Linked DNA regions of Homo sapiens. The protein of the gene in region 1 purifies or fractionates together with the protein of each later gene. This does not show direct contact. Each region holds a gene or a part of one and is shown on either strand. Other genes may lie near its edges.

Evidence for each region. Proteins that work in one complex are often made in the same cells at the same time.
Region 2: the proteins of ABCE1 (region 1) and YAE1 purify together in Homo sapiens (affinity purification with mass spectrometry; 2 studies listed by BioGRID and IntAct, with this or other methods). This does not show direct contact.
Region 3: the proteins of ABCE1 (region 1) and GSPT1 purify together in Homo sapiens (affinity purification with mass spectrometry; 2 studies listed by BioGRID and IntAct, with this or other methods). This does not show direct contact.

What each region holds. Positions count from the first base shown.
Region 1 is NC_000004.12:145,094,227-145,101,344, forward strand, and holds the start of ABCE1 (ATP-binding cassette sub-family E member 1), read left to right. Parts: upstream 1-4,084; 5' UTR 4,085-4,193; exon of another isoform or gene 4,194-4,345; intron 4,346-7,118. Other genes in the region: ANAPC10 (anaphase-promoting complex subunit 10), read right to left, coding at 1,759-1,885, 3,019-3,108. UniProt on the Homo sapiens protein: Nucleoside-triphosphatase (NTPase) involved in ribosome recycling by mediating ribosome disassembly. Able to hydrolyze ATP, GTP, UTP and CTP. Splits ribosomes into free 60S subunits and tRNA- and mRNA-bound 40S subunits.
Region 2 is NC_000007.14:39,562,131-39,569,436, reverse strand, and holds the start of YAE1 (protein YAE1 homolog), read right to left. Parts: upstream 3,034-7,306; 5' UTR 3,019-3,033; coding exon 2,890-3,018; intron 1-2,889. UniProt on the Homo sapiens protein: The complex LTO1:YAE1 functions as a target specific adapter that probably recruits apo-ABCE1 to the cytosolic iron-sulfur protein assembly (CIA) complex machinery. May be required for biogenesis of the large ribosomal subunit and initiation of translation.
Region 3 is NC_000016.10:11,905,924-11,912,957, forward strand, and holds part of GSPT1 (eukaryotic peptide chain release factor GTP-binding subunit ERF3A), read right to left. Parts: intron 1-7,034. UniProt on the Homo sapiens protein: GTPase component of the eRF1-eRF3-GTP ternary complex, a ternary complex that mediates translation termination in response to the termination codons UAA, UAG and UGA.

The DNA of each region.
Region 1 (7,118 bases):
AAAGACACTAGACCCAATAAGCTACATACAGTATTTATATCGGCATTCTGGGAAAGGCGAAACCAAAGGGACCCAAAACTGAGCTGTCAGGGGCTTGGAAAGGCCCAGAAGACTGACCATAAAGAGACATGAGGGAACTTTGTGGGATGATGGCAATGTTATATATTCGATTATAATGCTGCTTATATGACTGTACATGTCTGTAAAATTCACAGAACTGTACACCTAAAAAGGGTAAGTTTTATAGTATGTAAATTATACCTCAAGAAAGTGCTCATAGAAAGACAGAGAAGGGAATCTTGAGGGGAAACAGAAGAGGCTTGGTTGAGAGGATGGATACAGGAGTCATAATGTGCAAATAATAAAAGTTTCTGAAAGAAAGATGACTACTAAACTAATAACATTATAAAGTCCCTCAAGCTAAAGAAATTTCTCCAAGCTTGAGTCTGCAGGTGAAAACTGCCTATAAAATTATGGGTTACAAGGGTGAGAAAAGATATCTGGCAAATGCCATGAACTCAAGAATAAAGAGAAAAACCTTAGATGCTTCCAGAAAAAAACAAGTTACTTAGGAAAAAAAAAAAAGAGAGGTAGGCATAGGCCTTTATATCCACAACATGGCAAAAGAAGATAGTGAAAGAGCATTCATAAATTTTTGAGAGAAAAGGACTGCCACCCAAGAATTCTATCCCAACAAAGAGTAAAAGGAAAGTATTTTGGCGTATGTTATCACTCATTTATCCAATTGAGAGAAACGGCCAAAAAAAATAAATGAATAACAACTGAATCATAGTAGAGATAGAGGAGGAAAAGAGAAGACCTTATGACATATGTAATTAAATCTAACTAGGGAATAGTAAAGAAATTGGACAGAGATATATGATAAAAAAAAATTCAGTGCATTAGAATTAAAATAAAGCATCTAAACAAAAGGAATATTAAAATCAGACCAGTGTACAGTAGTATCTTTATCTGCAGTTTCATCTCCGCAGTTTCAGTTACCCTTGGTCAATCATGGTTCAAAATATTAAAAGGGAAATTCCAGAAACAAACAATTGGTAAGTTTTAAACTGTGTACTGTCTGAGTAGTGTGAAGAAATTTCTCACCATCCTGCTCCATCCCACCCAAGACATAAATCATCACTTTGTCCAGCACATCCACCACTTTGTCCAGCACATCCACCACTTTGTCCAGCATATCCACACTGTGTATACTACCTGACCGTTAGCCATCAACATCATCTGCTCCTGATATCCAATCATCAACATCATCGTGGCTTGATGATCCAGAATCACCAGAAGCAGATGCTCCTCCTTCTGAAGTATTGTCAGAAGGTTAATAGTAGCCTAACACTACATCACAACACCTACATTCTTCACCTCACTCGCTCTCATCACATAGACATTTTATCTCTCACATCATCGCAGGAGGAAGGGTACAATATAATATTTTGAGAGCGAGAGAGACCACTTTCACAAAACTTTTATTACTTTATTACTTCTATTGTTATAATTGTTCTATTTTATTATTAATTATTGTTAATCTCTTACTGTGCCTAATTTATAAATTACACTTTATCACAGGTATTTATGTATAGGAAAAAACATAGTATTAATATAGAAAGGGTTCAGTACTATCCATGGTTTTAGGCATCCACTGGGAGTCCTGGAATGTATCCCCTGGGATAAGGGGAGATGCCTGTACAAGGAAACTGCAAGTGACTATTTCCAACAGCTTTTTTGTTTGTTAGTTTTTACCTGGTTTGCAAGATGAGAGTGACCAAACAGCTTGTGACCCAATTTCCCGTACTGTTCCAGTCCTTTCCAACTGCTTGGGGTCAGCACCAGGAGGTGTCTTGTTTGGTGTAGTCATTTTTAAAATATTCTATGTAGAAAACAAGAATGCACACATTGTATCAGGAACTGGGCATCTTTCTACAAAAGTTTTTTACCAAGAAAAATTTAATGGAACTCATATACCCTGACATTAATCATTTATTCTGAAGAATGCAGTTAATATAATTAAATCACTGTAATTTAAATCTTAGGGGCTGGGCATGGTGGCTCACACCTGTAATCCCAACACTTTGGGAGGCTGAGACAGGAGGATCATGTGAGCCCAGGAGTTCAAGACCAGCCTGGACAACATGGCAAGACCCCATCTCTATTTTTAAATAAATAAAAATCTTAGGAATTCAGGTTTTGTTTCATATGACCAGATATGCAAAGCAGTGAGCTATAGTAGTCAAAAGAGCACAGAATCAAAGTTTTGGCTTCAGTATCTCCTTTAATCAGCCTAGACTTTGAGTAGGTCTGGGCTTTATTTCCTCTCCTGTTAAAGAGGTTCACTTGATGATTTTTACTTCTACAATGCTATGCAGTTCTATAATTCTGTGCCTGAAAATTCAAATGACTTTTAGCCCTAGAAAAGTCAGACTGAAATACTTTTATTCTAGGAATATATAAATATTGATCCTCATTTTATTTACTTAATTCCTTTTTTTTTAGAGACAGGATCTAGCTATGTTACCCAGGCTGGTCTTGAACACCTTGCTTCAAGCGATCCTCCCACCTCAGCCTCCCAAGTAGCTGGGATTACAGGTGTGATCCCATCACCCCACTAAGATCCTCATTTTAAATATTCATTGAGTGATGCAGAGAACAGTCATACCTGCCCTCTAGCTGTCAAAAGTTTTATTTAAGACCCAGCCCGGTGGCTCACACCTGTAATCCCAGCAGTTTGGGAGGCCAAGGCAGGTGGATTGCTTGAGCCCAGGAGTTCGAGACCAGCCTGGAATATGGTGAAACCCTGTCTCTAAAAAAATTCCAAAAAATCAGCCTGGTGTGGCGGCACACACCTGTAGTCCCAGGGGGGCTGAGACAGGAGGATCACCTGAACTGGGAGGCGGAGGTTGCAGTGAGCCGAGATCGTGCTACTGCACTCCAGCCTGCGTAACAGAGCAAGACACTGTCCCAAAAAGCACAAAAATAAGAAAAAAATGTTAAAAGTTCACTTACATATGCTCTTACCATAGAAGATAAGGTCAGGAAAATGGCTTCAAGATTTTGAAGTGAATAACTGGCCCATTCTAAAAAGGTTGACCTCATCTTTCACATCTTTTGTTAATTTTACTAAGTCTATTCATATGTGAAAAAACACTTCAATACTGGATCGTGAACAATATGTAAAACTGCTTTGGTAGCGCAGTTACTGCTACTGAACATTGTTATATATGCTATTCAAAATAGGTGCAATAGTTCTGCATACCGTTTCCTTGACACCTCCCATTGTATCCGAAGTTGTTCTTTAATCGGCACACAAGCACTTGATACTTACTAAATAACGGCAGACACAACGGACTGTAAACTTTGGCAAGGCCTGAGGCTTAAACGCTCAATAAGTAATTTACTGAATGAATAAACAGATGAATAGGTTCAGTTATGAACTAGTTGTCACTTGCCTGCAAGTTAGGTGAGATCTAGGGCGAGACTATTCAACCTGCAACCATCATTACTAACTGAATGTCCTGTTACCTAAAAAAAGATAGAAATAAAGCCCATCTTTAGGGCAGAATTCAACTGCCGGACTTGGGACTGGACGCCACCAAGTGGATAAAATATGGAGCTCGGAAAAGATTGGATTCCCGGCCCTGAACTGACCACACAGTTGAGAGGAAGTTGAGGCCTAGAAGAGCGCGCAACAGTAAGCCGTGTCGGCACCAGACTCTGTTGGTCCTACTGACACCTCCAGCGTTAGAATGACTAAGGCTCCACTCCTGACCCACCGGCCTTGAGGAAAGCGCAAACGTAAAAAAAGATTGAAACCGGAGAGGCGAATGCATCTGTTTACGCTAGGACCACGCTCGACGTCGGAGAAAAGCCCACACACTCACAGTTTCCAGACCTGGCTGCTTGCCGAAACTCAGATTCTCGGCACCTCCAGCAGCTGGCTTCGCCAACGGCGTTGAACAAGGGTCGCAGCTCAATGACGTCATATCTCCCTACCTACCTCCAGGGTTCCGCCTCACGCTCTATGTCGCGCGCGCGCACTACGTCCTATGGCTTGCGCGTGCGGCGGCTGGGCACCGCCATTTTGGCCGGTGGCCGTGAGAACACGCTGTGTGGCTGAAAAGTGAAGGCAAGAGCTGATTTGGCCTCTGTGCTCCCCTCCGCAAGGGGATCGTTTTCTCCAGGTACGTGAATAGCCCGGAGAGGTTTGGCCGTTAGCTGCCATCTGCCAGGTTGGAAAGAATGTAGGGACGTTCTCCGAGAGCCTTTGGTTAGGCCTTAGGTGGCGGAGACAGCAGCAGCGCGTGGCAGCGGTTCCTGCGGGACAGCTGGAACTGATGGAGCGCGGGCGACGCCGAGAGCTTGGGGGCGCCTCGGTCTTCCCCTCCAGCCGACCCGGCTGTCGCCGCTGTTGCCTGCCACACCCGCGAGGGACTTCGAGAATGGACCTAGATGCCGTAGTCTCCACTCCCCCTTTACCCCACTCCCGCCCTGAAGCTAAACCTGCTGGAGAGGAAGGCACCTTTAGAACTTACAGCACTCTCTAGTACCCCCACACTCCTCCAGCACCCAAAATGGATATATTGTCACATGTGCATATTTGGTTGTGGGAAGTCGTGGCTTCCACGTTTTGTTGAGTGGAATGAGTCATGGCATCTTGCCGCCATGAAGTCGAATACTCGCTGTCCACTCCCAGGCTTTATAGAAATGATGCCCACATGTCACTCTGCTTTTCTCAGAACAGCGTGTACGCAGCTATGACTGGGGTTGTCCCAAGTAGTTTCCCAGTAGAAATCCTATAGTTTTTTTGGTACGCTTTTGTAGCACTAGGCACTTTCTCCCCTTACCCGTTTTTCCTTTTATTGTATCTAATACTCATTGAGATCAAGGTTGATGTCTTTACTCAGAATACCTTTATTATCTCTTCAGGGCTTCGTACATTGTAGGCATTTAATACGTATTGTGAATGAATGACAGCCAAAGCCGAATTCCCACCTCCCATTAACTACATAAGCTTATTTTCTCTTTTTTGATGGTAAAAATCTATAAGAGGAAGAACTGTCCAAATAACATGTTTTATTTTTTTACTCTTTCCCAACAGGACTGCTAACTAGTCATTTATGATAGTGGCATTTATGTTGCAGTAGTTTGTCCCATATTCTGAGAATATTCATTGTATACCAGCCACCTGACACTAATACTTTGTTAGTGTAACCAAAGGCTCAGAACCTGTATTTGAACCAAAAGCTGTTTGGGGTTTGTGAGCTTTTTGAGAACTTAGTTCTCCCCTATTTTAAAAAAGGGAGTTTTTTTGTTTGTTTGTTTGTTGGAAGAGCATCTAACAATTGGGAGAGAGGGGGAGAAAACAATATTAAGTTAGAGTTCTTCTAAATGTCTTAAACTTAAAACTCTTTGAAATCAGAGCCGTGTACCACTCCTAACTTCTACGTGTTTTGTAAGACTAATAAACTACAATAAGCATGGGTTAGACTATTTCATGTGATACTAAACATCATTAGTTAACAGCAGTCTTTGAAATGCTTTTACACAGCGTTACAATTATTTTGGCTTTAGACTGTAAATGCTTCTAAGTATTCCTCACTTCCTTTTTTCCTCTCAGCTGTAAGAATGACACTGAGGGTCATTGTTCTAGTGTCAATTTTGAACACTTTTGTCTTCGAATCTGAAATATCCGCAAATCCTTCTTTGTTTGCAGGAGCCTGTTAACTATAATCTTCCTCTCCAAGCTTTACTGTGCCTAGGTTTTCTATTGAAAAACAAGTAGGGAATCCCCTTGCCCCAATTATTGAAACTGATACAGAAATTGAATTAAAAGTGTTCACACAGTTAATTAACAGTTCTACAAAGAATCCATGTTCATTTTTCTTAAATGCATTACAATTTATCACTATTTTTATATAAATCAGTTTATTAACCACTTCTGGTATGTTTTTATTCTACTGTAAAAATCAAGCCAGGGTAGTGACATGCACCTATAGTCCCAGCTATTCGGGAGGCTAAAGCAAGAGGATCCCTTGAGCCCAGGAGTCCCAGTCTGTAGTGTCCTGTGATCACTGCCCTCAGCCAGGACACCATAGCAAGATCCCTGTGTCTTTTTAAAAAATTGTCTTTTACAGTCTTTTGGTTTTTAAAATAGTTTGAAAAATTAAATATTTTAGTAGTTTAACAGAAATAAAGTTTAAGCAATTTCGTGGTGATTTATCCCCTGGAGGGGAATTCATTATGCTCTTTCACTGAGTAATTGTAGAAAGGCATTCAGTATTTAAATTAGAATGCATGGTGTCCAGTTTTAATAGCTTGCTGAAGAATCTTCATTTCCTAGGAAGTTGTCATTTCCCGAATAATAGCTTTTTTGTGACAATTCAAGCCATCTAATTTCTTCCTCTTCTAATCTTTACAAGACCTGGACCAGTTTTTAGAGGAATAGAGTCAACCTGTTTATTGGAATAACCCTGTACTTATTACATGAACATTTAGTCTCCTTTTGAATGATTTTTTTTTTCAGTATGTAGTTTAGTGGACAACTGTCACTATAAAATATTGGTAACTTGCAAGATTTCTAAAGTTGTTATAACCTACAGGAAAATTATTTACTATATTTAAATTCATATTCTCATTCATTTAGCAGAAATGCTTGATCTCCTGTGTGCTAGGCACAGGTTCAGCCACTGGAATGAACAAAAATTCCTACCCTCATGATGGATGGAGTACATTCTACTTGGGGAGGGGAAAAATGTGTATGTGTTTGTAGAGAGACAATATACATACACACACCCACGATAGATGTGTGCATATACACCAGATATATATAAAAAAAATATATATATGGAATATATAGTATGTCATATAGTTGAGCTAGGGAGAAAAATAAAGCAAGAAAGAAGGATGAAGAGGCAGTTGGGTGTATTTTTCGGTAGTGTATATTGTGGTAGTGTAGTTACAAAAGGCTCACTGAGAAATAGTAAAGATTGAAAGGAGTAAGCCATGTAACTCTCTAGGGGGAATAGCATTACAGGCAGAAAGTGCCAAGATCTTGAAGCAAGAACATGCCTGGCATGTGCTAGGAACAACAAAGAGCCAATGTAGCT
Region 2 (7,306 bases), on another chromosome or scaffold:
AGACTTTCCACAGAATGCCATAACACAACACTCTCTGGGTCCATCACTGGTCACAGATAAATTGTATAGTTATCTTAATATCATGATTTTGATAAAAACAGAAGACTGATTATTTCTTTTGGTTTGAAGTGAACTGTGACTTGCTTGTATATTACAGCATTCAGTCTAGATTGTCATTAAATTGAAGACTCTACATTCAGAACATAAAAGCACTAGGTATGTAAGTTTGAAATATGATTTAAGGACAGTATGGTGGTTTAACTAGTTCTCTAATTTTTGAAAAATCTTGCCAAACAATAAGATTTATGTATATTTGTTTAATAATAACCTGTTTCAAATCTGAGTTTTGAAAATTTACATTTCCCCAGTATTGCATTATTGGGGTACTTAAGATTATTTTAGAGAAAAATATTTCTCATTTGATATAATTTTTCTCAGTTTCATGTGTGTGAAAAAAGGAAAGTATTTCCCATAAATGGGAACTTTGCCCACTGTCTCAAGAAATATATATTTCAGTGACAATTCCGTGGTTTTAGAGATATATTCCAAAATTTCCTCATATTTTTAAGTTATGCAACTAATAAAAACTACCTTACATTAATTAGTTGCAGTTTTCTACACATGGTAATATAGGATAAGCTACTGATTTAGGAAGTTTTAAAGTCCATGGTATTCTCTCGATTCCAATAAAGGTTGATTTTCTCTTGTATTTTTCTTATTTATTACGGGTTACATTTTTTATTTTTCAAATTGGATAATATCCTGGAATTATCTTTTATGATTTAGTAAACAGCATTTTTTGTTGTTGTTTCAAACTGAAGTTTACTGAGAGATCCATCAAATTGAACTGTCTGTTGATAATTTAAAATTTTGGCCATTCATTTCAGATTTTAAATCATTCTTGCTGAACTACTTGAAATTGTCTTTTAAAATTTTTCTTTTTGGATGTGAAGGTGAACATTCCTGATTTTTGTCTGATGTGGAAAAGTCCTGGTATTTTACATTTTGAAAATTCACAGAAGGTTAATATAAAACAAAGTTTGCATTCTACTCAGGAAAAAGCATCTTCTTGTATATGTTTTAAATGTATCTTTGGCATCATATACAGAAAGTTCTTAATTAATTTTACAGTCTGTAATGCTTGATGTTTCAAAATCATTAACTATATATATATATATTTATTATTATCATTATTTTTTGAGATGGAGTCGCGCTCTGTCACCCAGGCTGGAGTGCAGTGGCATGACCTCAGCTCACTGCAACCTCTGCCTCCCGGATTCAAGTGATTCTTCTGCCTCAGCCTCCCAAGTAGCTGGGACTATAGGTGCACGCCACTATACCCGGCTAATTTTTGTATTTTTAGTAGAGATGGGGTTTCGCCACACATTTTTATATTTTAAGATACAAACTTCATATTTTCCTGTTCTTTCCTAACTGCTAATATTGTGTGGTATCTTACAGGTAGAAATCAACAGGATGGTACACTTAGTGTATTTTTACTCCTTAAAGAGCATACTCCTTAAAGGGCATACATAGTTTTCACCTTACAAGAAGGGGGAAAACCATAAATACAATGAATCAACTGACCATTATGTAGTAGACAATTTCTGTAATGTCCCCTTCTTTCTAGGCTCTGCGGATAGGAGAATCCACTAGACTTATAGTAGCATAATGTACAAGTTTTCTTTAAAGGTCTCTCCTTTAGAATATAAAATATTATACCATTGAAGAGTTTGGATGTGTAACCTGTGATGCCTTAGAAAAATATCCTAAGCACAAAATAAACTTTTCTAATCACTTCAAAAGATTAAAAAAACCAAAAAACAAAAAACAAAACCCAGCATTAGCAATGTCTTCACAAAAAGGATATATGGAAAATTACACATCTGGGCTCTTGCCAACTGATTGGAATGGTGTGGGTGGGTGAGGAGACAGGGCAAAGCAGAGAGAGGAAATTGTTTAAAAAAAAAAGGATGATGAGAAGTCTGGTTTCAGAAATTTTGCATAATACCTAAATTCAACTAACCTGCAAAAGCTCTGTGGGTAGTGATTTCGTTCTGCATCTCTCACGGTGCCACAGCATTTAAAAGATGCTCAATACTTATTAGTGTGGCCCCAGTCTCACATAAAGCATTTTTGTAATTGACAACATGGTTTTTGGGCTAAGCAAATACCACTCTACTGAAATATTAAACAGGGCAGATTCCCAACTGCAGCTTTAGCGGCAATTTAATGGTTGGCAAATATATTAAGTGGATGTGGACCTCACTATTTGGTCCTCACCCAGAAATACTGTAGGCTGCACACAGAAATTAAGCTTAGTTTCAATGAATAGTGAGACAAATTAGAGATGAAAAAGTTACATCTAACAAATAAAAAAGAAACCAACTTTAATATTCCCTTACCTAGACACCAGTATTCCACATTAGCTTTCCCTTATTGTCCTCTGACAGCATGCTTTAGTTCATCTTTTCAATATGTCTTGATTAACACTACTCCTTAACTTTAGGCTCCCTACCCATTCAAGCCACCCATATAAACTGCGTACACGTCCTTTGACAGCCATAATAAGTATAGTGTATGTTTCTCTCCAGCTCCTTTCCCTGTGATCCTCAACAAACTGCAAACTGTTCAAAGTCTACACATAGTTAATTTTGGTCGGTCCTCAGTTTCTAACGCATCCCGTAGGCGCTCAAAGAATGCGTCTTGTTGTTTTACACGCTTTCAAGTAACCATCGAGAAATCCTAGCAAGACGCGGGTCGGACCGGGTCCCTAGGGATAAAGAGAGCAGCGCCGGGCCAGGCTGGGGCCACTCTGGACCCAGCTTCTTCACAACTCCGCGCCTCTTCCCACAACCCAGCACCCCGCGCCGTCCACACCACGTTTACTTTGACTCGTCTTTGCATGTTACTCTGCCATTCCCGCTGCGCCAGGAGCGACTCGTCTGCTTCTTCGTCAAACACGTCCCCTTTGTCTCCAGGGCCCTGGATCAAGGAGGCTGCTTGAACCCACGACATCACCGAGGCAATTACGGGGTCGCAGGCCACCGGAAGCGCCAACAACTCCTTCCGGTCCGAAGGCGGGGCGAAGACGGCGAGTGGAGGCTCGGGAGGGGCTGCGTGTGCGCGGAGGCGGGCTGTGGCCCGTGGCCGCCGCCGGAGCCTTTCGCTTGCGGTGATTTTGGGCTCCCTCGGTTGGCAGTGTTGATGTGTGCCTGTGAGTTGTGAGCGAGGCAGATTTCCTCGCGTGGCCGGCACGACCTTCACCTTTGCAGAAGGCAACCGGGACCCTCAGTGAGACACCTTCCATTTCCACCGTAGTCTTACCATGGTCTGGGTTTTACATTCGCGCGCTTTGGTAAACTATTAAAGGTAGTAAAGTCGATGGGCGATTACCACCCAAATACTTTGTCTCTTTTGGAATCTCCTCTGCATTTAAAGGATTTGACAAGCCGACATTTTAAACTGTTAGGATTGTGGAGTAAAGGAAAATAGGATCGAAAAGCGAGGTACTGTAGCCAATTTGAGATTAGTAAGAAATATAGAGTACATTTGTAAAGCCAATATATTTTTTCATTGATTCACGATATCCTTCTGCCTCCCATTCCTGTTCATATGCCCTAAAGTAAACAGTTGGTTTGGTAAGGGTGGGGACTTGTGTCAACACCAGGACAGTTCTGACACATAGTAAATGCTGAACTCTATTTTGGTGAATGAATGAATACCTGTAGTATTCCTGTTTTGCCCTTTGCCTGGGTAAAATGAGTCATGTGATTATGATTTATTTATCTAACAATTTATTGAACACCTACCTTGTGTCAGGTACCATTCCAGGCTTTGGGATACATCAATGAACAGACGGAAGTTCCCAACCCTTGTCGACTTTATAGTCATGTAAAATTGACAGGATAAACAATAAGCAATATATAAGTAGCATAAGGTTTGTTAGAAGATCATAAATAAATGCTATGAAAAAAATTTTTAAATAAGCACAGTAAGAACCATAAGTGTGTGGGAGTGGGTGGTTGGTTCATGTTACAATTTTAAATCTCCAGAGAGAATTTGGCATCCCACAAATAAAAAATATATAAACTACAAATATGTATATTTTATTAATGTAAATATATTAAGATATATGTATATATCTTTATTAGGAACAAAATGGTAGTAAGCAATAAAGATAACAATAAAATAGAAAACCTCAAAACTTGAATAAGTAAGTCCAATTCTTTTTTGTATTATTTGAAAACACCAATAAGATAGATAATCCTGTCATGACCCAGATTTTTAAAGAGAACAAAATTATACAAGAATGAGAAATGAGATAACCACTGATGCAGAAGGAGATTAAAATATTAATTACCAACTAAAACTCAAAAGCAACACATTCGAAAACCTGAGAGATATGAATGACTTTCTAAGAAAATTGACCCAAGAAGTAGGGTCATGAAGAGACTAATTACCATAGAAAAATTGGACATTAAATATCTACTATTAAAAATGTCATGGAGACTTGGGAGTTTCACATTAAGTCCTTTGCAATCTTTAAGGAATGATGGAGTCTTAAACTATTTTTACCATTTTAGGGGAGAGAAAAAGAAGAAACTCCTTAAATCATTTCATGAAGCCAGCCTTACTGTAACTTCATAAAGATAGTACCAGAAAAACCCCAAAGTTCAAGTTAGCTTGTGAATATATATCCAAAAGAGAATCTAGTAGGTTGGTGCAAAATTAATTGGGGTTTACTTTTGCACCAACCTGGTAGTACTTTATCAAAAGAATAATTTAAGAGGTTTTGTACCAGGAAAGCAAACTTTTGCAATATTAGGACATCAATAATATTTCATTGCATTGACTATTTTTTTTTTTTTTAAAACAGCGTCTTGCTCTGTCACCCAGGCTGGAGTGCAGTGGTGAGATCACAACTCACTGCATCCTTGATCTCCTGGGCTTGAGCTATCCTCCTGCCTCAACCTCTTGAGTAGCTAGGACTACAGGCATGTACCACTGCACCTGGCTAATTTTTTGATTTTTTTGTAGAGACAGGAGTCTCACTATGTTGCCTAGGCTGGTCTCCAACTTCTGAGCTCAAGCTATCCTCCTGTGTCAGCCTCCCAAAGTGCTGGGATTACAGGCATGAGCCACTGTGCCTAGCCTGCATCAACAATATAAAAGGGAAAAAACATGTTATATTAATAAATGCTAAAAAGTTATTTGAAAAAATTTAAAAATCATTTCTAACAAAATAAAGTAGAAATAGAAACTACAAATTGGTAAAGACTTTACAAAAATTCCAACGAGTAGTATTTTAAACACTTAGATGTTCAGATATTTCCTTTAACATATAGAAAGGAGAGGGCATCTGGTAGTCACTATTATTACTTAATATTCTTTTAGAGACTAGCACACTAGCACTTGCAATAAGAGAAGTAAACAAAATAACATGTATAAATGTTGGATAATAAAAGATGAAGATATTCCTTTTTAAAAAATGAGACGGGATCTTGTTCTGCCACCAAAGCTGGAATGCAGTGGTGCAATCATAGCTCACTGCAACCTCAAACACCTGGGTTCAAGCAATCCTCCTGCCTCAGTTTCCCAGGTAGTTGGGACTACAGGCACGCACCACAATGCCCAGCTAATTTTTAAATTATTTTTAGTAGAGACGGGGGTCTCGCTTTGTTGCCCAGGCTGGTTTTGAACTCCTGGCCTTAAGTGATCCTTCTGCCTCAGCCTTTCAAAGTGCTGTGATTATAGGCATGAACCACCATGCCCAGCCTAAGATATTCCTTTTGGTCATTATATGATTATATACCTAGAAAACCCAAAAGACTTTGCTTAAAAAATAACAGAATAAAGAAATTTGATAAAGTCTGTGAATATAAGAAAAATAAACACACCAATAGCCTCTTCTAGTAATAATCATCTAGAAATGTAAATGAGATAAATATTCCACTTGAAATACCAACAAATATTATTAAATATAGTAATGACATGTTTGTTTAGTATTTAGTGTTTATTTAGTACTATATTTGTAAATGTCAGGAACACATTTTTAAAATCATGCAGTAACATGCATACATTTTGAGTGTAAACACCACCTATGAAGATATAGAAAATTTCCATCACCCCAGAGAATTTCCTCGTGCTCCTTTGTGGTCAGTCTCTCATCCCTGGCAACCCTTGATCCAATTTTTATCACTAGATTAGTTTTGCCAGTTTAGAATTTCATAGAAATGGAATTGTATATGTCCTTTAATATATTTGGCTTCTTTGACTCAACATGTTTTTGAGATTCATTTATTTGGTTGCATGTACCAGTAGATTGATCTATTTTATTGCTAAGTACTATTTTCATTATAGGGCTATACCATGATTTGTTCATGTAGTCATTTTTGGACATTTGGATTGTTTCCAGTTTTTGGCTATTATGAATAAAGCTGCTGTGGACATTTTTGTACATGCCATTTTGTGTACACGTTTTCATTTCTCTTGGGTAAATATCTAGAAGTGGAATTGCTGGTCATATAGTAAGTATACATTTAACATTATAAGTGGTATGGGCCGGGCACGGTGGCTCACACCTGTAATCCCAGCACTTTGGGAGGCCGAGGCGGGCAGATCATGAGATCAGGAGTTTGAGACCAGCCTGACCAACATGGTGAAACCCCATCTCTACTAAAAATACAAAAATTAGCTGAGCGTGGTGGCACACGCCTGTAATCCCAGCTACTCAGGAGGCTGAGTCAGGAGAATCGCTTGAACCTGGGAGGTGGAGGTTGCAGTGAGCTGAGATCGCACCAGTGCACTCTAGCCTGGGCGACAGAGCGAGACTCTGTCTCAAAAGAAAAAAAAACAAAAAAACAAGTGGTATGGTTTGGCTGTGTCCCCGCCGAAATCTCATCTCATCTTGAATTGTAGTTCACAATCCCCACGTGTCATGAGAGGGACCTGGTGGGAGTTAATTGGATCATAGGGGCAGTTACCCTCATGCTGCTGTTCTTGTCATGGTGAGTGAGTTCTCATGAGATCTGATGGTTTTATAAGGGCCTTTTCCCCCTCTTGCTTGGCACTTCTCCTTCCTGACGTCATGTGAAGAGGGATGTGTTTGCTTCCCCTTCCACCATGATTTTAAGTTTCCTGAGGCCTCCCCAGCCCTGCGGAACTGTGAGTCAATTAAACTTTTTTTCCTTTATAAATTAGCCAGTCTGGAGCGGTCCTCTGTGGCAGCATGAGAATGGACTAATACAATAAGAAACTGTAAGCTGTGTTTCCAAAGAGATAGTACCACTTTACACTTCCACCA
Region 3 (7,034 bases), on another chromosome or scaffold:
AACTGTGGGTGGATGACTTTTTTCTCTACTTCAGTAGTCTCAACAAGTTGGCATGATGTATTGTATAGAATAAATACACAATCAATTTTTACTGAATTACTGTGTTTTCCTTTGATTTTCACACTGGTTCCTTCCAGTCACATCACTTCATTTTTTCACTTTTCTTTTTTCTTTTTGAAATGGAGTCTCACTCTGTCGCCCAGGCTGGAGTGCAGTGGCACAATCTGGGCTCACTGCAACCTCCACCTCCTGGGTTCAGGCATGAGCCACCACAACTGGCCTCACTTCCCTTTTCTGACCAGGACCCCTAGCCTCCATCTGTACATTCATTGCATTTCCATTAGGGCTCAAGAGAGTGAAAACAATTTTAAATGTGCCAACTTTCTAAGAAGGGGTTAGGGAAACACTACACTCAGGAGATGTTGGGCCAGCTGTGGTGGTTCCCGCCTATAAACCCAGCACTTTGGGAGGCCAAGCTAAGAGGGTTGCTTGAGGCCAAGAGTTCAAGACCAGCCAGGGCAACACAGTGATGCTCTGTCTCTACAAAAAAAAATGTAAAAATGAGCCAGGCGTGGAGGCATACAACTGTAGTCCCAGCTATTTAGGAGGCTGAGGCAGAAGAATCACTTAAGCCCAGGAGGTTGAGGCCACAGTGAGCTATGATTGTGCCAATGAACTCCAGCCTGGGCAACAATGTGAGACCCTGTCTCAAAAAACAAAATTAAAGAAAGAAAATTTTAAATTAACTATGTGGTTCATACTATATTCCCATTGGATTATGCCAGGGTGGTAACGATAAAAAAGCAAGATTCATTTAACTCAGAAAGAAAATTAGGCTAAGATAATAAATCCAGCAGCCAACAAGTCTTAATAATAGGCACTTATCTGGTAAGATCACATGAGACAATATTTCTTGAATTTTTTTAATGTAAATCCCTCCAACAACAAAGAACGATCCCATCTCTGAACAAAAATTTGCAAGCTGAGGTTTTTCTTTTTTTCTCCTGTAGACAATACTGAAAAACAGTAAAAGCAAACACCAGAAAGAAGTCTACAGAACACATAAAACAATGTGGATGGTTTTGCCTTAATTACCTAACACTCTAAAAATAAAAAGGCTCGGTACAGACAGTGGTGAACAGAGCTGTTTTAAAGTATTTTACATCAACACTTGCTAAAATGTAAAAAGAAGTAATTTCAAAATATTGCTTTAAATCAGAGCACTGCCTACTTATGACAAATGTCATTCTGCTACTACTGAGACAGAACACAGAGAAATGCCATGGTCCAAGCTCACAGGTCCAGTTTCTGGAGAGTCTCAGTCTACTTTAATACAAAATCACAAGGAAAGCACTAGCAGTCACTACTAGAATAAACTTTGAAATGACCTCGATTCCAAGCCTCACTCCTCTCATGGATATGACTGACCTAAGTTATTTAGCTTTACTGAGCCTTTATTTTCTCATCTGTAAAATGGGTCAACAGTACCTAACCTCAAGAGAATGTTGTGAAGACTAAATAACTGATAAGGGGTGGTAAATGCTCAATAAATTTATTACAGCAAGCACTTCAAAGCCCCAAAATAATTTCAAAAACCTTTAAGAATGAAACATTAGGCAAATGCCAGGGCCACTCTCAGAAAACTACACGCTAGTTGTAGTAATTAGCTCCAGGCATGCCCTTCCCGCCCCCTGTTATTAAACAGCATGATGTGGCAGATCAAGCACTAAACTAGCAGGTAGCAAATCTGCATTCTAGACTCAATGGTGTCATTAACTCTGTGAGTGACCTTAGGCATTTACTTAGCATTTCTAAGGCTCCAGTTCCTTTATCTGAAAATGAAGAGGCTGTACAACTGCTAGGGTCGTATCCAGCGCTAACATTCTAAGAACCTCTTTATTCGGACACAAAAGCAATGCCACATTATCAACCTGATCAGACTTTGCATAGAGTAACTAAAATTCCATTATGTTTTTCAAACAACCCTGAAAGACAGTCTTATGAGCTACAACCTAACTACTTCAAAAACAATTTGAGGCCAGGCGCGGTGGCTCACACATGTAATCCCAGCACTTTGGGAGGCTGAAGTGGGCAGATCACTTGAGGTCAGGAGTGCGAGACCAGCCTGGCCAGCATGGCAAAGCCCCGTCTCTACTAAAAATACAAAAATTAGCTGGGGATGGTGGTGCACACGTGTAATCCCAGCTACCTGGGAGGCTGAGGCAGGAGAATCGCTTGAACCAGGAAGGCAGAGGTTGCAGTGAGCCAAGATCGTGCCAGTGCACTCCAGCCTGGGCGACATAGAGAGATTCATCTCAAAAACAAAAAAGAAACAAAAAACCATTTAAATAACATTTAAAATACACAAACCAAAACCATTTCAGATACCCTCAAAAAAGTACAAAAATAACAGAAACAGCCGGGTGCGGTGGCTCACACCTGTAATCCCAGCACTTTGGGAGGCCGAGGTGGGTGGCTCACTTGAGGTCAGTAGCCACCAAGACCATCCTGGCCAACATGGTGAAACCCTGTCTCTACTAAAAATACAAAAATTAGGCCGGGCGCGGTGGCTCACGCCTGTAATCCCAGCACTTTGGGAGGCCGAGGCGGGCGGATCACGAGGTCAGGAGATCGAGACCATCCCGGCTAAAACGGTGAAACCCCGTCTCTACTAAAAATACAAAAAATTAGCCGGGCGTAGTGGCGGGCGCCTGTAGTCCCAGCTACTTGGGAGACTGAGGCGGGAGAATGGCGTGAACCCGGGAGGCGGAGCTTGCAGTGAGCCGAGATCCCGCCACTGCACTCCAGCCTGGGCGACAGAGCGAGACTCCGTCTCAAAAAAAAAAAAAAAAAAAAAAAAAAAAAAAAATACAAAAATTAGCCAGGCATGGCGGTGCGCACCTGTCATCCCAGCTACTCAGGAGACTGAGGCAGGAGAATCGCTTGAACCCGGGAGGTGGAGGTTGCAGTGAGCCGAGATCACGCCATTGCACTGCAGCCGGGGCAACAAAGGGAGACTCCATGTCAAAAATAAAAAAATAACCGAAACATTTTTCTGCTACCAAAATTAACCACCTAAAGGCAATGGACAAGTAGTATGGTAACATACTGGAGTTCTACAGAAATATTCAACCAGGAAATTACCCAGTGACATTCTGCAGAATGCGCTTTTTTTTTTTCAAGTGAAGCGACATACAATTACCTAGTGGGAATGTGGTTTGGAAGTGAGTGTCACCACTGTTAGGTCAGGTGCTCGGGAAAGCCTTATTAAGTGTTCTTCTCTCTTTGAAAGTAGAATTATGATGGGAAACTGGTTCAACTTAGAGTACTGTAACAACTAGGTTTCCTTAGAACAAAGCCATTTACGAAGGAGCCATATAAATCTACAGTCTCGGCTCACTTTGTTAAACTCTACTGAAAACAAGGCAGAAACTTCTAAGCCTTGAAATGAATCAACAATCAACAGCTAAAAACTGTCAGTTTTCTTGATTGTTCTGAGGACCTCAGATCCTTCAACTAGTAGCCAAATTCTTGTCTCCCGAAGATATTTTAAAACCAAGGGTAGAATGATGAAATTCTAAACATGCCCCAATAGACACACTAGCCAGACTCATAGTAACTGAACTCACTGCTGTTTAATACGAAATAGACAAGTACTGTAAAAAGATAACCAGTGCTCTACCTTCAGCACTCTCGACAAACTTAAAAATACAAAACTTGGCCAGGCACAGTGGCTCTCGCCTGTAATCCCAGCATTTTGGGAGGCCGAGACGGGTGGATCACTTGAGGTCAAGAGTTCGAGACCAGCCTGGGCAACATGGTGAAACCTCATCTCTACTAAAAATACAAAAATTAGCTGGGCGTGGTGGCGGGCACCTGTAATCTCAGCTACTTGGGAAGCTGAGGCAGAACAATCGCTTGAACCTGGGGAGGCAGAGGTTACGGTGAGCCGAGTTAGGGCCACTGCACTCCAGCCTGTGACAGAGCGAAACTCCATCTCAAAAAACAAAAACAAACAAAAAAACTTAGCCAGGCGTCATGGTGGGTGCCTATAGTCCTAGCTACTCAGGAAGCTGAGGTGAAAGATCACTTGAGCCCAGGGATTTGAAGTTACGATGAGCTATAATCACACAATTATACTCCAGCTTGGGTGACAAAGTAAGATCCCGTCTCTAAAAAATAATAAGTAAAAAGTTTTTTAAAATACACACAACCTTGGTGATCAGGCTTTGGCTGCAACTCTGGCCCAGGAGGCCAGAAAAAAAAATACACACAAGGCATTCGCAAAGAACAGTGAGCAGATAATAGATAAATCTTTAGTTTTATGAGAGTGACAAGACTGAGAGGTTTTACGTAAGGGATTGCTGTTCTCGGCTTTGAAAGCCTTCTCTACACTCTCTGCAGGGCTCACTTACCACACTGTGACTTCCACTAGAGTACACTGGGCATCTGATCCCTTTCTAGATTCCTTCAGGACCACAATTTATTCATCTTGGTGTTATTTCAAGTGCCTAGCATAGCATCTTTCATTCAGTGGACTGGTAAATGTTTGTTAATGAGTCGCTAGTACATATATCTGAGCAAAACCAGAAATTCGCATTTCTGGAAAAAAATTCCATTCCAATACTGCTAACTCAACCCAGAAGGTTATCAAATCTCTTTTTCATTCCTTTCTCTTCAACCAGAAAGAAAATACTATCTGAACACTTTCAGACATTTCTTCCCCAGCAAACCAAAGCAAGCAAATCAAGGCTTAAACTTTGTCGTCTACATTACTTCCTTAACTTGTTCAAACTGAAATTGCTGTCTTTTCACGCTGTGCAACTTCAGAAAAGGTAAAAAATAAAGAACAGAAGAATGCAATAAGATATGTACTGACAGCACTACGTAATACCTGCTCCAAAGAGGGTTTTTACACCAGTCAAAAATTCTAACAGTTTAAACAACTGCTCAACTTGGCACAGCACAGCCCTAGATGATGCCTTCGCTTCTTCCCTAAATCCTCAGTCTCAAGCCATTCATACGTGTAAAACCATGAAACAAGAGACAAAAAGGTCAGCCATGGCAGGAGAAGTAACGAAAGGCAGTGTTTACTACTGTGATACTCCAGGGATACTGTGGGGCCTCTCCTCTACCCCATCTGCTGTCCCACTGAAGCCTAAAAACACCTTTATATGAGCACTGTTCTTGCAGGCACTTCAGTCTCAAAAACACATTCTCAAATACAGAATCTTACCTATTATCTACCTCAACAGATAGAATTTAACATATTAATAAAGTGTAAGGGCCTTTCTGGATTAAACAACCATTACTTTGATTTGGAATCCTCTCTACTCTGGTGGCCCTGAAGAGGTCACTTCTGAGATGTTCCAGCTTAAAACTGAGAATATTCTAAAAAGCATCTGCCAAGTGGTGATGGTTGCATAACCTTACAAATATATTAAAAGCCACTGAACTGTATGTACACTTTACTTTTCTTTTTGGACAGTGTCTCATTTGGTCACCCAGGCTGAGTGCAATGGTGCCATCATAGCTCACTGCAGCCTCCAGCTCCTGGGCTCAAGAGATCCTCCCACCTCAACCTCCCAAGTAGCTGGGACTACAGGTTTGTGCCACCACACCCAGCTATTTTTTTTTTTTTTTTTTTTTGAGACAGAGTGTCAATGTCGCCCAGGCTAGAGTGCAGTGGTGTGATCTCGGCTCACTGCAACCTCCGCCTCCCAGATTCAAGTGATTCTCCTGCCTCAGCCTCCCCAGTAGCTGGGACTACGGGCGCGCACCACCATGCCTGGCTAATTTTTATATTTTTAATAGAGACAGGTTTCGCCACGTTGGCCAGGCTGGTCTCGAACTCCTGACCTCAGGTGATCCGTCCACCTCGGCCTCCCAAAGTGCTGGGATTACAGGCATGAGCCACTGCACCCAGCTGTATTTTTTTTTTTTTTTTTTTTTTTTTTTTTGTGGAGACAGGGTCTCAGTCTCACTATGTTTTATGGAGGCCTCAGGCAATCCTCTCACCTCAGCCTCCCAGAGTGTTGGGTTTATAAGTGTGAGCCAATGCGCCCAGCTTGTACAGTTGAAAAGGGTGAATTTTACAGTGTGTAAGTTAAATGTCAATCATTTAAAAAAAAAAAAAAAAAAGGCCAGGCGCGGTCACACCTGTAATCCCGGCACTTTGGGAGGCCAAGGCGGGCAGATCACCTGAGGTCAAGAGTTCAAGACCAGCCTAGCCAACATGGTGAAACCCCATCCCTGCAAAAACACACACACACAAAATAGCTGGGCATGATGGCAGGTGCCTGTAATCCCAGCTACTCGGGAGGCTGAGGCAGGAGAATTGCTTGAACCTGGGAGGAGGAGGTTGTAGTCAGCCGAGATCGTGCCATTGCACTCCAGCCTGGGCAACAGAGCAAGACTCCGTCTCAAAAAAAAAAAAAAACAAAAAAAAAACCTCCTCTTCCAATAAATAAGGCATTCAGCAAATACGGAACACTACAAAACAGAATGTTTCTCTTTAAAATTCAAGTTCCACAATACAATCTGCTAAGTTTTGGAGACAGTGCCTCCTCCAAGTAAGTACTGAGGGCTGCTGGTTTTATTCCATGCTTGTTTCTTAATGGCAGTGAGTTCTGAGAAGCATTAAAGGTGGGATGATGCAAAGAACACCACATCATTACTTTAGAAGCTCTGGCTGTTCTAAAAAGTTCAAGTAACCCTAAAATTACTAAACCAGTTTCTTATCTAACAATAAAAAAAACTAGGTGCAAATTGCAACTTAAATACATCCTATCAGATAAAATGCTTGTTCTAATATACATTAAGCCTTGTCTTCTATATTTTTATTCACTTGGGGACCTCACTTTTTAAGGAGAATCTCTTGGCCAATTTACTTGGCTCTAGAGAACTGTGCTTAAATGAATTACACTTAATTACACTTAAATGGGTTCCACTTAATTATTTCTTAAGGAACCTATATTCTTTAGTTTTCAAAGAGATCCAAGGTCAATACTGAATCCCAAGGTCTGACTCTCCAG